Linked DNA regions of Homo sapiens: region 2 is linked to region 1. A link means that fine-mapping ties the variant in region 1 to the expression of a gene that starts in the linked region. Tissue or cell type: spleen. Region 1 holds a variant in brackets; the other region holds the start of a gene. All regions are shown on one strand. Distances are between the middles of the regions.

What was found. PIP is the estimated chance that this variant, and not a neighbour inherited with it, causes the effect.
Region 2: EPHX1 starts here. The variant in region 1 is fine-mapped to the expression of EPHX1 in spleen (GTEx, PIP 0.98).

The regions. Positions count from the first base shown.
Region 1 is chr1:225,773,841-225,776,522 of GRCh38, reverse strand. No RefSeq gene overlaps it. Among named protein-coding and RNA genes, the nearest start is that of SRP9, 2.6 kb to the left of the region's middle. The variant G/A (reference allele first, on the strand shown) is at 1,535.
Region 2 is chr1:225,808,636-225,811,317 of GRCh38, reverse strand. EPHX1 (epoxide hydrolase 1) reads right to left here and starts at 1,194. Exons shown (of 9, transcript NM_001136018.4): 1 at 1,149-1,194. RefSeq lists a silencer at 1,017-1,236.

The DNA.
Region 1 (2,682 bases):
GGCTGAGGTAGGAGAATCTCTTGAACCCAGGAGATGGAGGATGTAGTGAGCCAAGATCGCATATCACTGCACTCCAGCCTGGGCAACAGAGCAAGACTCTGTCTCTAAAACAACAACAACAACAACAACAAAAAAAGAAACTCAAAAGCAATATGTCAAGTAGAGTAAAAAGCTGAAACTGGAGATCATATCTGGGAATAGCCCCAATTAGGGTCTGTCTCCAGCAACACCCAGAAGCTTGGATTTTGGACTGGAAAAGACAGATATTAGGGATTTATAGGGTACATGAGGAAGAAGAACAAAGGGTCAAGAATGTTGTAGGTGGTACTGGCAAGAGAATGATTGAAATGATAAATTATGGGATCCATGCTAGATAGCTGGTAATTAATTGAGTCAAAAGAGAGAAGTTAAGGAACCAGGATTAAAGGAAATCTGAATTCAATATAGCAGGAAATAAGTTTTAGTCAGATTGGATATTGGGGTTTAACATTTTAGAGTAGCAATAGTCCCTGGTGAGGCTGGATTTATAGTTGGGTTGTCCACACAAAGTCAAAGTCTTCTATGAGTAAGAAAAGGAATAAGATGAAGGAGAAGGCTATGAGCCAGGGACCCAAATCCTCATTTAATGAGACACGTGTGTGTGTGTGTGTGTGTGTGTGTGTGTGTTGAGGGAAGCTATAAAGAGCAATGAGCAGAGGCAGAGAGGGCAGAGTTGGGCAGAATGACCCCCAGGTGTAGGGGTTTTTCCCTGAAGATGAAAACAATGGAAGTTAAGACAATGCCAACTTTGCCTTCTGTCACAAGGAACATAAGAGATCAGTTTCAATTCAATTCAGCAAAAAGTAAAACAAGTGTCCACCCTGGACAAACACCAGGAGCTGGGCTAGGCATTAGAGACCCAGCAGTGAACAAGACAGGCCCAGTCCCTGCCTCATAGAGCTCACAGTTATGGAGAGAATGACAGTAAAGAACAGATCTCCATTGTGAGGGTCCCCATCACTGTGAGTTCCAGCATCTCCAAGCTTAGCCCAGCCTCAGCCCCTACAGAGGCAGAGAAATCAAGATAAGGAAGAAGTTATGGGAATTGCCCTTGATTATGCAAATGTCCCCAGTCACACTAGGATGCATTCTTTTTTTAAAAATTTAATTTTAGGTTCGGGGGTACATGTGCATGTTTGTTACATGGGTATATTGCATACTGGTGGGCATTAGGTTTCTAGTGTACCCATCACCCAAATAGTGAGCATTGTACCCAATTGGTACCTTTTTAACCCTTTCCATCTTCCCACCCTCCCCCTTTTGGAGTCACCAGTGTCCATTATTTCCATCTTTATGTTGATGTGTACCCGTATTCGTCCATTCTCATACTGTTATAAAGAACTACCTGAGACTGGGTAATTTATGAAGAAAAGAGGTTTAATTGAACTCACAGTTCTGCAGGCTGTACAGGAGGCATGACTGGGGAGGCCTCAGGAAACTTAACAATCCTGGCAGAAGGGCCAAATCAAGTGCTTGGAAGCCAGCACTTCTTCAC[G/A]TGGCAGCAGGAGAGAGAGAGAGAGAAGGGGGAAGTGCTACACAATTTTAAACAACTAGATCTTGTGAGAACTCACTCACTATCACAAGAACAGCAAGGGGGAAATCCACCCCCATGATCCAATCACCTCCCACCAGGTCCCTCCCCCAACACTGGGAATTAGAGTTCAACATGAGATTTGGGTGGGGACACAGAGCCAAGCCACATGAGTGCCCATTGTTTAGCTCCCACTTATAAGTGAGAGCATGCTGTATCTGGTTTTCTGTTTCTACGTTCGTTGACAGGATAATGGCCTTCAGCTCTATCCATGTTGCTACAAAGGACATGATTTCATTCTTTTTTTTTTTTTATGGCTGCTGGATGCATCCTTTAAACTAGGTTATTCCTTTCCTGCTGTGGCTTCTGAAAGGCTATCAGAGAGTGTCCTTTATAAATTGCTCACACATGCACAATGTCAGAAAAGGAAAAATTCCTTTCATTCCCAGTCAAGAAGATCAGGGCCTCTGTACCCTTTGTGGTTATCCTTTCTGCTTCATTTTCACACACATATCTTATTTGAGCTTTCAAACAACTCTGCCAGGGTGGTCAGTGAGCCTTATTACAATTCCAAAAATCTGAAAAGCTCTGGAAAACAAAAGTATCTTGGTAACTCCATTAGTAGAAAATGACCTGACCTCAAGTAAGGTTGCTTAGTCTTTATTTGTTTCACTTGGTGTGTTTGGTTCCAGGGTGGGGCACAGACCCTGCTGGTGGTATTATGTAATATACCACATGTGCACTGTATCACCTTTCTAGGATCCAAAAGGCTGTGAATTCTGAAATACGGGTGGCCTCAAGGATTTCGGACAAGGGATTATAGTCCTGTGCCACTCTCCTTTACAGGTGATGAAGAAACCAAACCTGAAAAATAAGTGACACTAAACAGATTGGCCCCAGACTTTGCTCCGGATTGTCCAGCAAATGGCAAAAGCCAGTGGATGTTAATCATAACCGGAAGTGACAGGATTAATTTTGATTTTTAGAAAGTGTAACTAGTAGAAATACAGAAGCTAGATCGGTAAAGCAGAGCCTGGGTGCAGGGTCAAAACCAAAAGCCCTTGCACTTTTCCTTATGTTCACCACCTCCCGCGATTGTGTTCATGTCTTTG
Region 2 (2,682 bases), 35 kb before region 1:
TTTAAGAAAAAAAAGTCAAAATTAGGATTACAACATTGCTAGGCACCCCACCTCCAAGATCTCGGGAGCCGCCAGGGCAAGGAAGGAGCCAGAAGCTCAGAGAAAACCGACATCTGCCAGGGAGGGAGGCAGGCGGCCACTCGGTCTCCGCGGCGCTTTTGCTCAGGTTGACCACATTCCCTGGCTTCAACTACAAGGTGAACTCCCGGGCAAGTTTCCTGTTCTACAAGAGGAGAGGGCTGGCCTTCAATCCCGAGACCAGAGCGAGGGGGTGCCGGGCGGCGGCTGCGGCAGCAGATGGAGATGAAAGCGCATTTCAACTAAAAGGTGTGATCAGTGTCAGGCCTCTGAGCCGAAGCTAAGCCATCATATCCCCTGTGGCCTGCACCTACACATCCAGATGGCCGGTTCCTGCCTTAACTGATGTCATTCCACCACAAAAGTGAAAATGACCTGTTCCTGCCTTAACTGATGACATTGTCTTGTGAAATTCCTTCTCCTGGCTCATCCTGGCTCAAAAGCTCCCCTACTGAGCACCTTGTGACCCCCCCCACTCTGCCCGCCAGAGAACCCCCCTTTGACTGTAATTTTCCTTTACCTACCCAAATCCTATAAAACGGCCCCACCCCTATCTCCCTTGGCTGACTCTTTTCGGACTCAGCCCGCCTGCACCCAGGTGAAATAAACAGCCATGTTGCTCACACAAAGCCTGTTTGGTGGTCTCTTCACACGGACGCGCATGAAAATCAGTGTTCCGACTTGGGTGACAAATTAAGTGCATTTCACCGCCGAGCGAGCCACGGCCCTGGAAGCAGAGCTCGCCCAGGCCAGGGGACGCGGTGCGCTCTCGGGGTCGCGAGCCTCCCTCCCTGCGGCGTCCGCCCACAGTCTGGGACGCGGAATTCCCTGCGAGAAGTCCGCGGTCGCCTGCAGGCTCCTTCCCCCAGTAGGCGGCACGCGCAGTCTCCTGGCCGGGGCAGGAGCTGGGGGCGGACCAACTACAAGTCCCTCTGCACCCCTGCGGGCCGACCGCAGCCCCGACCCCTCGGCGCCCCGGCCCGCCGCCCACCCCGGCGGCCGAGCCCGCGCGGAGCCCGAACCGCGTCTGCGTCCGGGGAGTGCGGGCCCGGCCGGCCCCGGGCGCTTACGGTCTCGGCTCGCAGGCTCCGGCGGCGGCAGGCGCGCGATCTCTCCGGCTCCCTGGCTCTCCTCGGCTAGTTTTCAGCAGCCCCGGCGCAGTCTCCGCCCAAGCCCGGCCTCCGAGCGGGGCGTTCCCCGGCCTGGAGGACCCGGGAAAGTCTCTAGGCCTGCCTAAGGCTCCACCTCTGCCAGGGATAAAACGGGCTACTTAAAGGGCGGTCCGCGGCCCCGCGGCCAGAAATGGAGAGAAGCGTTTGGCAGCTCCTACAGCAGTTTGATCCCGTAACTTCGTCAGTTGAATCTAAAAACAAAAATCCAAACTTGCATGATGTATGTCCTTTTTTTTTTTGGAGACAGAGTCTCACTCTATCACCCAGGCTGGAGTGCAGTGGTGCGATCTCGGCTCACTGCAGCCTCAAGCGATCCTCCCACTTCGGCCTCCAGAATAGCTGGGACTACAGACTGCGCCACCACACCTGGCTAATTTTTTAAGTTTTGTAGATACGGGGGTCTCACTTTGTTGCCTAGGCTGATCTTGAACTCCTGGGCTCAAGCGATGCACCTACCTCCGCCTCCCAAAGTGGTGAGATTATGGGCGTGAGCCACTGCACCTGGCGGTGTATGTCTTTTTAATTTCATCTTTCTAGCAATTCATTCTTAGTATATTTAACAAACATATTGGTCCGTGACATGCTTGGAAATCTAAAAACAAATTAGTGTCTTTATACAGAGAATGTGAGAAGCAATGGTCTGAAGCACTCTTGGGGGTCTTCATGGTGAGGACCAGTATAGGATGCTGAGTTCAATGCCAGGGGAGCAACCTCTTAGTGAATCCCCTCCCGCTTTGGAGAGAGCTCAGGGCCCAGGCGGGTGGTTGCTGGGGCTCTTTTAGCTTCCGTGAGAGCGTTGATCCCCAGCCCCTCATCGTTAGAAAGCCTGTCCCATCGCCTCTGCCATCACCCCTCCTTAGCTTCTCTCTTCACCTGCTCAGAGGTGCAGTTCTTTCAACCACCAGCATCCTCACGATCTCGGTGGACAGACTACAGCTAGGAGGCCACATGCAGGGCCCGTGGCTGGAGTTCTAAGCTTCTGACTGTCACCTTGCACACTTCAGGATAAGGTTCACCACCACCCACCTTCCCTTGGCCTCCAACCTTTCTGCTCACCCTGGCCCAAGAATTCTGGCCGGCAGACGCACTCACCTCACTCCCACCTCCAAACTTTTGCTCTTGCAGTACTGCCGGACAGGGTGCCCTCCTCCATCCACATGTAGAGTCCTCTTGTCCTTTAATTCTACACCCTCCTATAAAAGCTTTCTCTTGCAACTGCAGTCTCTGACATCTCTGTATTCCTTTCAGAACCTGCAGTCTGGGAGAGTTCTTTCCCCTCCCCTCCAAATAGTTCACACAGAAGCTCTGCCTCTGGCCACTTCACCAGGGGACCCAAATTCGTTACTCTTAAAACTGCAGTGATGGTGAAACAGGTAGGAGTCAGGACTTAACGCCAGAGGTGGGGCTTGGACACCAGATTGAGGACCAAATT